Linked DNA regions of Homo sapiens. The protein of the gene in region 3 binds, or shares a complex with, the protein of the main gene of each other region. Each region holds a gene or a part of one and is shown on either strand. Other genes may lie near its edges. The genes, in order: ARHGDIA, TRADD and NGFR.

Region 1 (3,811 bases), about 32 Mb from region 3:
AGCTGCACACCAGGGTCAGGCCAGTCACCACGACGTTGGGGACGTTGGGGTCTGGGGAGTGACAGCAGGTGAGGGCCCCACCCCCACCAGTGGAAGTAGGGGCTGGGGAGCGGCAAGACAGCTGGAGTGAACGGGCGGCCACCCGGCTCCCGCAGCCCAGACTCACCTGCGGAAACGGCCACGCGGCCCAGCAGGGCCTCCTTGTACTTTCGCAGGCTCTCGTCGTCCTTGTCCAGCTCCTGGATCTCCTGGATGCTCTTCTGGGCCGGGGGCTTGTAGTTGACCGAGTGCTCATCCTCCTCGTTCTCCGCTGCAATCTGGGCCAGCTGCTCGGCTGTGGGCTCCTGCTCAGCCATGCTCAAGCTTAGCCTGGGTCGGGACACCTGTGGGCGGGACGGTGACAGGCCTTGGACCTGGATCCCCAACGGAGGCGCACTTCTGAGCAGGAGTGTGGGCTGCAGCCGGAGCTCCAAAAGGGCTCCAAGGGGGCCACCTTCGCTCCTCTCCACCCCCGCGATTCCTGCTCAGGGGCATCCTCTGGGGCAGTGTGAGGTGCCCCCACCCCAGGTATAACATCTAAGACAAAATGGGAACTGCAGCCGATCATGGGGAGAGAGGACACACCTCCCCCTCCACGATGGAGGAGGCAGCAGCCCCCTGTATGTGTGGGGCGGGGCTAGCAGGCCCCAGAATCAACCGGCGGGGCCCACACTAAACCCTCTCTTAGGGTCTTGCCGCTCTTGAGCTGCCCAGGCCCTCGCCCTACGGGGTAACGGGGCTCGGTATCCCTCAGTAGGGTTGCTCCTCTGGCCGTGGTAGTCACATGTAAACGTGTGTGGTCGGCTCAGCGTCATCTTTCAAACAGGATGCCCCTGGAGCTCGGATGTTAGGGGCAGCTAGAATACCGCACGGGGCCACCTGGACACGGGGATCCTAAGTATCTGCGGTTTCTCCACAATTGTGAGGGTCTGTGACCTACAACTTGGGAGCTACCACAGCCACTCAGTACTCTCGGGCCCTCTTGTAGATGGTGGGCCCGGAGTGCCCGGGGCAGCACTGACCCGGCAGGGGATCTGTCAGGCTCAGATCCTTCCCGGCAGCGTGGGAGGTGGGTCAGGGAGCAGCACACCCGGGACACCCAGGCCGGGGTCCAGGCCGCCCTGCTTCCTCCAGGGGCTGGGGCCTCCGCGCCGCGCGAGGATAGCCGTAGGCGCCGGGATCCTAGGGCGCGGCCCGCACTTCCGCAGGGCCCGCAATCCGTGCCGGGCGTGGCCCGGGCGCTGGGGGAGGCCGCGCCCCAATCCCCGCGTCGCCCCCGAACGCGATGGACCGCGGCTGCCGGCCCGGCGCCCCCCGCGTCCCCAAGGAGGGGCCCTCAGGTCTGGCCCGGGCCCCACGCGCCTCGGCGGCCATGAAAGAAGCTCCGGACCGCTCGGGAGGGGCCGGCACTCCCCTGGTCCCCGCCGCCCCTCCGGCCCGGGACCCGCACGTGGGGCCGGGGCCGCCGCCGCCCGGTCCCGCCCCGGCCCCGCCCTAGCCCGCACCGCCCTGGCCCGCTGTCACCGCGCCCCCGCCCGCCGAGACCCTGCCGCGGGCTCAGGGCGGGGCGCGAACAAAGGCGGAAGCCCCCACCTCAGCGCCCCCCGCCCCCGCCGGCGCCGCCGGTCCCCGCCCCGACCCGCCGCCTCCGCCCCGCCGCCTCCGCCCCGCCACGGCCACTCACCGGAGGGTTCGGCCGCGCGGTTCAGGATCCCTCCCGCACTAAATGACGAACGTCGTCGGCCGCCCCGCCCGCCCTGCCTGTCACTTCCGGGGTCACGAGACTTCCGCTCACTCGGGCGGGGAAGGCCAGGGCGCATGCGCGGCGCGCGGGTGGCCGGGGGCACGCCGTCGCCATCTTGCGGCTGGGCCTCGTGGGCGCGTTCCGCGTGGGTTCTGGCGTCGTCACCTTCCACCCCAAGCCCCGTCAGTGGTCACCTCTGTAAGCCAGGGCACTTCCCTACGCGAGCCCAGGGCGCCCGCACCCGGGAGGCGAGGTCCGGTCCCGCCTCTCGCCGCTGCCCAACCCGCGCCCACTCGAGGCCTGCGGCGGCCGCGTGGGCTGTGGAAGCCCGCGCAGGTGCAGTGCGCTGCCCTCCCCGGCCCAGTCGGTCCGACTGCGACTCTTGCTTCGGGGCCTAGTCACCTAGTCCCGGGACTTCGGGGAGGTAACGGGCACGGGGATTAAGTTCTCGTTAAACACGGGCGAGAGCGCTGGCGCGCGGGCCGTTCCAGGGCCTTGGTGTCCCCCGTGGAAAGACAGGGCTGTGGGGCTAGGAGGAGCCCCTTGCACGCCCCGCGGAAAGCTGGTGCTGGGCGAGGGCGCAGCGGAGGTGTTTTTCTCCAGGCTGAGACAGAATTCGTGCGCAGCGCGCGTGGCTGCCTGGCGCAGGCGCCGCTGCAGAGGCCCTAGTGTCCCTGAGGAATCCCGCGGCTCCTCAGGACCAGGAGGCAGGGAGCTCCTGGCACCGTGAGCAGATGAGGGGCTGCCTCAGCCTGGGCTTCACCGCAGAGCCCTGTTCCCCACTCCGCTTGTTCCGAGATTCCACACATTCGCCCACAAGGGCCGTGTTGAAGTATCAGGAACGGCCGCATAACGTGAGTGGCCTGGCCCAGCAGCAGTGCTCGCACCCAGCCCCGGGCTCGCCTCTCCTGGAGGCCAAGCCCCTAAATGCCCTGCACCAGACACTGGGTGGGACGCTGCCCCGCGTCCAGCCTGCAGCACTTGTTAGGACTGTGGACTCGTTAACGTGGACGCCTCTTTTATTTATTGATTGATTATTTTTTTGAGACGTAGTCTCAGTGTCGCCCAGGCTTGAGTACAATGGCACAATCTCGGCTCACTGCAACCTCCACCTTTCAGGTTCAAGCGATTCTCCTGCCTCAGCCTCCCGAGTAGTTAGGATTACAAGTGTGAGCCAACATGCCCAGCTAATTTTTGTATTTTTAGTAGCGACAGGGTTTCACCATGTTGGCCAAGCTGGTCTCGAATTCCTGACCTCAGGTGATCCACCCACCTCAGCCTCCCAAAGCGCTGGGATTACAGGCATGAACCACCGGGGTGCCCAATCTTTTTTTTTTTTTTTTTTTTTCTTCAAGACAGGGTCTTGCTCTTTTGCCCAGGCTGGAGTGCAGTGGTACAATCTCAGCTTACTGCTGCCTCTATCTCCTGGGCTCAAGCAGTCCTTCCACCTCAGCCTCCCGAGTAGCTGGGACTACAGGTGTGCAACACCATGTCCAGCTAATTTTTTATTTTTTGTACAGACAGGGTCTCACTATGTTGCTCAGGCTGGTCTTGAACCCCTGAGCTCAAGCGATCCTCCTGCCTCAGCCTCCCAAAGTGCTAGGATTACAGGTGTGAGCCACCATGTCCGGCCACCCAGCCTCTTTTAATCACTCTTGAGCTCCATGCAGACAGGGCCCTGTCTGTTTGGCCCATACTGCCAGGCAACCCAGGCTGATCAAGAGAAGTGGAGACCACACGCACACACACACGCACAGCTGCTTTGTTCAGACACAGACATGAACACAGGAGGGCATTTTTGGGGACAGAACTATGCAAAATACCGAGCTTGGTGTCTTTTGAAAATTTCTGAATGTTGGAGGGATATTTGAGAGTTTCTGTAACTGAGTCACACTGTCAGTGCCATGTCATCAGCACAGCGTTTCCTAATCAGGTGTGAAATGCTTCACTGTTAAAGACTCAGAGCCCCTGTGCAGGTGATCATGTTGCCCAACTTTCCAATAACCCAAGTGCTTTTAAAAAAAAACT
Region 2 (3,436 bases), on a different chromosome or scaffold from region 3:
TTGCTTGAACCCAGGAGGTGGAGGTTGCAGTGAGCCAAAAACGTGCCATTACACTACAGCCTGGGAAATAAGAGTGAAGCTCCATCTGAAAAAAAATTAAAATTAAAAAAAAAAAAAAAACAACCACCTCCCAGTCTTAACTCCCGAAACTCTTCAAAGGCTTCCTACTGGCCTCATTGAAAAACCCACAAGCCTTCCTCAAGCCCTTGCCTGAGACTGTGCCCCGAACACTGCCCTTCTCTCGATAGCCCACCCCTATGCCTACTCACACTCATCTCCTCCAGGAAGCCTACCCCCTGTCCCCTGCCCAGGTTAGGCCCCTTCCTCCATCCTCCACAACTTCTCTTTTTTTTTCTTTCTTTTTTTTTTTTTTTTTTTGAGACAGGGTCTCACTCTGTCACCCAGGCTGGAGTGCAGTAGCTCAGTGACATCTCACTGCAGCCTCAACCTTCCATGCTCCAGGGATCCTCCCACCTCAGCCTCCTAAGTGGCTGGGACTACCCAGGCTGGTCTCAAACTCCTGAGCTCAAGCAATCCTCCTATCTCTGTCTCCCAAATTGTTGGGATTACAGGTGTAAGCCACTACTACTTGTATTTCTCACATCAAAATCCGTGTTATACTTTATTATCATTGCTTAACATTCGGGGTCCCACGCTGAGTGTGAGCTGGGGGCAGGCAAGATTGATTCCTGTTTTACTTCACTGCAGTATCTGCAGCACCCAGGATGAAGTCCAGGACACCAAAGATCAAGGTGCTTCATGAGTGAAACTGTAAGGGCTGGCTGTAAGCCCCGCTTCTGGGATGGGAGAAGGTGAGGCTGATCTCCAAAGCAGGTCCCCCCCACCCCACACTCTATCAAAGTACCTGAGGCAGAATCCCCAATGATGCACCCCCAGTGGTCTGGCTCCTGGGGAAGGCAATCAACTCTGCCCCAGCAGGTCCAGCAGATAGGCCAAGTGGAGTTTCAGGGTCCCGTGGATGGACAGGGGTTCAGCAATAGCCGCAGAAGGAACCCTAAGGCCATCCAGGTTCTCCAAAAGCTGGCTGCACCCCTGGTCTAGGCCAGGCCGCCATTGGGATCGGTCAGGCCCAGCAAGTCCTCTGCCAGGCTGGTGAGCTCGTTCTCCTCGAGTGCCTCCACCAGGCGCTGCAGCGTGGCGCGGCGGCCCTCGGCCTGCACGAAGCGCCGCAGCAGCTGGAAGGCCTGCTCGTACAGTCCCTCGCGCTCGTACTCGTAGGCCAGCGAGTCCAGCGCCGGGTCCCGCAGCGCCCGGCAGCCTCGCTGCAGTGAGCGCCCCACCTTGCGCCATTTGAGACCCACAGAGCGCGCGAACGTCTGTTGGTCCTTCAGGCTCAGCGGCCGATTCACTGCAGAGGGAGTGGGGAAACGGGGTGAGGGCGGGGACCCCCAGCGCCGGTCCCACCCATCCCCACCCGGCAACGACCCCTGCCCCTCCCCAGACTCCAACCTCCTGGTGACCCCGCCTCTCCACCTGCGCCTCACCTACAGGCTGACCCTGGAACAGAAAAGTCTGGGCAGGTGGCGGCGGCGGCGGCGGCTTCACCTCCGACAGAGAGGGCACCGGGGGCTGCAAGGGGGCCGAAGCGACCTCCCCGTCGCCACCCCGGGCCCCCGAGCCGCACTTCAGATTTCGCAGCGCATCCTCCAGCTCAGCCAGTTCTTCATCCCGGAGCCGGTCGGGCTAGGGGAATGGAACGTGCCGTCACGGGGGACTTAACCGCGGATCCCCGCCCTACCCCATCCTGACCCTAGCCCGGCCGCACCTGCTGGGCTAGGATGCAACTCAAACAGCGCTCCTCGTCCGCCAGCAAAGCGTCCAGCCGCTCGGCGCCGGCGCGCAGCTCCAGTTGCAGCGGCACCGAGTGCTGGGCGAGCGCGGCCGCCAGGCTCCTCTGCAGCGCGGCGCGCAGCGCCCCCTCGCGGTAGGCGCGGAGGAAGCGGCCACAGGGCTGCCGCCCGCAGAATCGCAGCTGCACGATCAGCTGCGGGTCGCTGCGGTGGATCTTCAGCATCTGCAGCACGTCCGGGCTCCCGCCGCTCTCTGCGGAGGCGGGCGGTCAGGCGCCGGGCGGTCCCCAAGCTCGGCCGTTCTCCAAACGGCCGGAGGAGGGGCGAAGCCCGTGGTGAAGCCCCGCGTCCCATCCCCTGACCTAGGGTGCAGTTACCCCAGAGTACCCAGCTGGGAAGCAAAATTGGGATACAAACAGCAATAACCCAGAAAGAAGACCAGGATCTGTCACAGGGAGCACCCTAAGACAGAGTGGGTGCCACCTAACCCCCGCTCTCACGCCCCAAATGAGGGTTGGCAAAAGAGAGGGACTTCGAAGCACAGAAAAGGGGGCGTGTGCCCTGGGCAAACAAGCCGTCTGGGTAGGCGGCCAGCAGGGCAGAGGAGGGCGAGAGGTCTCAGGTCTTCGGCCTCCACCAAGCGCGACTCCCACTGCTCGGGAAGAAGAGGGGCTCTCGCCGCTCTGAGGCCACGAACAGATCCCCCAACCCGCTTCAGCCTCCTGTGGCCTCTGCCCTGAGATGGGAAAGGGGGGCCTGGAAGGGTAGGTACTGGGGAGGGGTCTTGAGCAAGGAGTGCTGCAGTAAGAGAGGAAAAGAGGAGAGAGACATCCACAATTAGTAGAAAGGAGTGAGCCGGCTGGTGGAGGGGGGCGGGGATGGAGCAAAGGACGTTAGTGCACAAATTGGTAAATCATACACAGACTCGAGAACACACGCCTATCCTCAAGGTCATGCCACAAGCAAAGAAGAGAGTCTGCACAGCCAGGGGTCCTCCGTCTTGCTCCTCCCACCCCAAATCTTCTTCTTAAAGGTGGCTAAACCCAGGCCCACCCACAAAATGCTCCAGGCCACCCCTTCCTCTCCACATGCCCGCCCATCCACGCACCTGCCAAGGCAGCCTGCAGAGCCCTGTACACTGCCACCTTCTGCTGGGGGTGCGCGTAGGCATCCGACAGGACCACCTTGTCCAGCGAGGACTCCACAAACAGGTATGCGCTGCCCACCCACTCTTCGTGCCCATTTTGCCCAGCTGCCATCTCACCTCCTGGAGATGCAGACAGTCAGGTATCCAGTTCATCCCCCCTCCCTCCACCCTGGAGACAACTACCCAGCCCCACGTGGTTCAGCTGTCCCCACCACAGTAGCCTCAAGTCCCACATGGTTCAGTTGTCCCCACCACTGGTTGGCATACTTGGGACAGGAGTTCACCATCTCACAGGAAGCCCCTTGAGCTCCTGGCTCTGTACAGAGTCCCACCCGCCCCAGGCTTGCAGTGAGGACTGTCCCTCCACTGCCTTCTTGGAGAAAGAGCCCAAGGTCACAGTGGAGGGGGAGCAGAGGCAGATCCTGCAATGGGGCTTCTCTGCTTCCTTCTCAGGCCTGTGTGTCTCTCTTACCAATGC
Region 3 (3,600 bases):
AACCAGCGGCGTTAGTCAGCAGACGTGCCCGCGGTCGCTCCCAAATCCCCGGACGCAGCCACAGGTCCTGACAGCTCCAGGGAACTGGGGCTGAGCTTTCGGGCTGGGGCCCGCACCCGGACAGAATCTCTGCCCACCTCACCCGCAGGCTCTACCGCCGACGGACTCTGGGGACAGTGTCAACCCCCCCCGCCCTGCTGGGAAACGCAGCCGTGACCCCGAGCTGGGACAGCGGCTGCCCCCTGAAAAGGTGGGGGAGTACCGAGCTGGGAATCAGGTCGGGGAGTCTAGCCACGACTCTGGCCCAACTTGCTGTGAGATCTTGGCCAAGTCGTTTAAACTCTCAGAGCCTCAGTCTCCGTATCTGTAAAGCCGGAATTTGGGGCGCAGTGCTCTGATGAAAGATGCTGGCGGGGAGAGTGAAGACGCCTCCTCCGTTGCCAGACCTTCCAGGGCATTCGGTTCATGGCCATAAAGCAGGCCACATCTGACAATCTCGTCGGACCACCCGGAGGACCCGCCGACCTTTGCCGAGTCGGTGGCCCGGGATACCGCGCTACAGAATCCGAGGCGTCCGGGCGCCCCCGTCTCGTTAGGTGCCCAGCGGCTTGCACCGAGAGCCAGGAGAGGCTCAGACCGGATCCCGACCCTTCGAGGCGCGGGAGCCCACGGAGCGCGGTGGGCGCGGCGCTCGGGTCGCGCAGCTAGGTGGGGAGCGGCGCGCAGCCCCAGACTCGCAGGCAGGCAGCGGCGGACTGCACTTGCCTCGCCCCGCAGCGCCCCCTGCCTGCCGCCTCCCGCCTGCGTAGCCAGAGCTGCGCGCGGCCAGGAAGGGTCCCCGCCTAGTGCGCCCCGGCGCTCTGCACCCCGAGACGTAGCCACCGCCAGCCCGGGTAGGGGCACACCCGCTCCGTCCCTCGCGATCCGCTGCGCTGCTTCAAGCCGTGAGAACACGCGCGTCGGAGGAGCCCGCCGGCCGTGGGGGAACCCCGGGAGCGGGTTCGCCCCGGCGAAGTGGGCACTCCCCTCCCAGCCTTAGATCCGCAGCCCCAATTCCGGGACTGGGAGAGGCCGCGAGCAGGAGCGCGGGGACAGGCGCTGGAAATGTCCAAGCCTCTGCTCTCTCTTCTCGTCTCACTGTCCCTCAGCGGGCAGGCGGGACCCCGACCACTTCAGGGTCCGCGCCCCGCTCTGTCTCCTTTCCTTCTGCTTCCATCTCTCTGCCGCCCTCGCCGTCGCCCCTCTTCTGCCCTCCCTAACCCACTTCTCAACCTCTCTCCCGCTCCCCAACCTCTCCCTCCGACGCCCCTCCCCCCCATTGTCTGGCCGGTCCCCATTGTCCTTGCCGGGTCCCCTCTGCCTCCAGTCCCTCCGACCTCCTCCATTGTTCCATCCCGTCGTCCCGGGCTCCCCGCCCCAGCCCAGCTCGCCCCTCTCATCTCTAGTCCCCGTCCAGTTCCCCCTCCTTCTCTCGCCTTGGTTCTGTCCCACGACTCTCCAGAGACCGAGATGCTGAGGGGAAAGTCCCTTCGGGATCCCGGCATTCGAGTGTCCTCTTCCGAAGAACCTGGGCATCGGAGAGCCCCATGCCCCCTCTTGAAAGACCCCTCCCAGCTCCCCCACCGCCCCCTGCGGTACCTGAGGACCGGCATCCGTGCTCCGGTCTTGCCCTCATCTCCACCCTGGAGAGTCGCCTCTGCGCTCCGGGAACCCTAGACCCTCCTTCGTGGTCCCGGCATCAGAGGTCCTTTCCCACCACCCACCCTCAGTATCTGGGACCCCAATGCTCTGTTCTGTTTCCTTGGTGGCGGCGCCCGGCTCTTCTCGGAGTTCTGATCCCGGGAAAGGGAGCGGGCCCCCTCCGGCTAACACTCACCCCCAGAAGCAGCAACAGCAGCAGGCGCGGCCCGTCCATGGCGCGGCCGGTGGCACCTGCCCCCATCGCCCGCCTCCCGCGGCAGCGCTCGACTTCCAGCTCGGTCCGCTTTGCGGACTGATGGGGCTGCGCTGCGCTGCGCTCCAGCGCCCCCCCTGCCCGCCGGAGCTGGCCGCGGCTCGGCTCGCTCTGGCTGCGGGCGGGAGAGGCTGGGTGAAGCCAGTGCTGCGGCCCCGCCTCCGCCCCGCCCAGCCCGCCCACCCCCGGAACCGCGCCCGCCCGCCCTGCCGCCTCGGGGTGGGAAGCAGAGGCAAAGGGAGGGCGTGCGGTTCCCCGCACCCCGCTGCGCTTCTCCCTGCCTTGTCCCTTAGAGCCTCTCACCCATCCCGCCCTGGTACCCAGTTCCCGGCCCGCGCTACTGCGCGTCCGTCCCGGATGCTGTGGGCCCGGGGACCAGGGCGTCCCCACTGCGGTTCCTGTTCCTCTCCGGCTGCGGCCCGCCACAGGGTTCACTCTCTTACCCATCTTCCTCCGCCTCTGGCTTCACCTTCTCCCTGGAGCCTTGCTCCCTAACTGCCCCCTATCAGTAAGAATGCCCGCTTGCCCTCCCTGCCCTTCATCTCAGTCCATCACCCCACCTCCACCCCATCCCCACCCCTCCCCTTCCCAGTGCAGGAGATCCCTGGGCAGAGGCCTAGGGGGAGGGGAGGGGCGCAGGCGCCCTTACCTCGGCCATCGACATTCAAGGTGGAGTCCATTCCGACATCATTTGATTCTCAAATGAGGGGTTTGAAGGGGTCACAGGTGTGCACACAGTGCACAGGAATACACACTCTCAAGCTCACTTGTATGTGTGATCGTGCACTTACGTGTGCCCACACCGTTCTCATGCACTCCTGCCGACCTGACTGTCCCACACATGCACCTCTCCAGGCATGCACACGGGCACATATGTGATCCGGACATTCAAACGCGCATATGTACACATTCACACATGCATGTATACAGTCGTGTCTGCATAAGCCCTCACATGTATACAGTCACACAAACACACACATTCATGAGTGCACACACACACTGACACCCATCAACAAACAAACAGATGCATCTTCAACAATATAGACTTCACCAGACTGTGAGTGTCTCCATGGGCTTATGAGCTCTGCAGGCAGGGATTATGGTTTCTTCTCTGAATTCCTGGTATACAGTAGGGTTCAAGAAAGTTTTGTAGAAGGGAATAAATAGAAAAGTGGTGAAATGGACTCATATCTGTGTACCCATCCATGTGCTAGGACCAAATTCATCTTGCCCTAGAAACCTTGCCAAGTCCAAATAATATGCCTCCCAACCCCAAAAGCATGCCACCCACCCCCATGCTTACCCCTTTCCTGTTCCCTCCATTTCTTCGTTCCCAGACATCAAGACCCTGGAGCACAGAGTTGATGGGGGTGTCTGCAAAGTCTATCCCAACACCCAAATCTTAACCATGTTTGGATTTCAGTTTCCTCCTGGAAAAAAAAAAAATCTCACTACCCTCCCCAGTTATGGAAACAAAAGGGAGATCAAGAGCGCTTGTGGGCCAGGCACATGCCTGTAATCCCAGCACTTTGGGAGGCCGAAGCGGGTGGATCACCTGAGGTCGAGAGTTCGAGACCAGCCTGGCCAACATAGTGAAACCTCATCTCTACTAAAAATACAAAAATTAGCTTCGCGTGGTGGCTCAC

What was found.
Region 1: the proteins of NGFR (region 3) and ARHGDIA are in contact, whole or in part, in an NMR structure (PDB 8X8T), measured with the Homo sapiens proteins. Residues at the interface, in NP_002498.1 of Homo sapiens: Arg274, Trp275, Ser277, Cys278, Lys279, Gln280, Lys282, Gln283, Gly284, Ala285, Ser287, Arg288, Pro289, Val290, Asn291, Gln292, Thr293, Pro294, Pro295, Pro296, Glu299, Lys300, Leu301, Ile307, Ser308, Val309, Gln312, Ser313, Asp316, Gln317; in NP_001172006.1 of Homo sapiens: Ala8, Glu9, Leu11, Ala12, Gln13, Ile14, Ala15, Ala16, Glu17, Asn18, Glu19, Glu20, Asp21, Glu22, Val25, Pro30, Ala31, Gln32, Lys33, Ile35, Gln36, Glu37, Ile38, Gln39, Glu40, Leu41, Asp42, Lys43, Asp44, Asp45.
Region 2: the proteins of NGFR (region 3) and TRADD are in contact, whole or in part, in an NMR structure (PDB 7CSQ), measured with the Homo sapiens proteins. Residues at the interface, in NP_002498.1 of Homo sapiens: Glu345, Glu346, Glu348, Lys349, Leu350, Asn352, Gly353, Ser354, Ala355, Glu379, Ala380, Cys381, Arg384, Glu420; in NP_001310481.1 of Homo sapiens: Thr201, Phe202, Asn211, Ala275, Glu276, Arg278, Arg279, Thr281, Gln283, Arg284, Glu287.

The regions. Positions count from the first base shown.
Region 1 is NC_000017.11:81,869,575-81,873,385, forward strand, and holds the start of ARHGDIA (rho GDP-dissociation inhibitor 1), read right to left. Parts: upstream 1,764-3,811; 5' UTR 1,724-1,763; intron 1,424-1,723; exon of another isoform or gene 1,062-1,423; intron 384-1,061; 5' UTR 357-383; coding exon 167-356; intron 52-166; coding exon 1-51. UniProt on the Homo sapiens protein: Controls Rho proteins homeostasis. Regulates the GDP/GTP exchange reaction of the Rho proteins by inhibiting the dissociation of GDP from them, and the subsequent binding of GTP to them.
Region 2 is NC_000016.10:67,153,591-67,157,026, forward strand, and holds the end of TRADD (tumor necrosis factor receptor type 1-associated DEATH domain protein), read right to left. Parts: intron 3,079-3,436; 5' UTR 3,071-3,078; coding exon 2,920-3,070; intron 2,065-2,919; coding exon 1,787-2,064; intron 1,705-1,786; coding exon 1,506-1,704; intron 1,370-1,505; coding exon 1,059-1,369; 3' UTR 595-1,058; downstream 1-594. UniProt on the Homo sapiens protein: Adapter molecule for TNFRSF1A/TNFR1 that specifically associates with the cytoplasmic domain of activated TNFRSF1A/TNFR1 mediating its interaction with FADD.
Region 3 is NC_000017.11:49,493,760-49,497,359, reverse strand, and holds the start of NGFR (tumor necrosis factor receptor superfamily member 16 precursor), read right to left. Parts: upstream 2,068-3,600; 5' UTR 1,943-2,067; coding exon 1,877-1,942; intron 1-1,876. UniProt on the Homo sapiens protein: Low affinity receptor which can bind to NGF, BDNF, NTF3, and NTF4. Forms a heterodimeric receptor with SORCS2 that binds the precursor forms of NGF, BDNF and NTF3 with high affinity, and has much lower affinity for mature NGF and BDNF.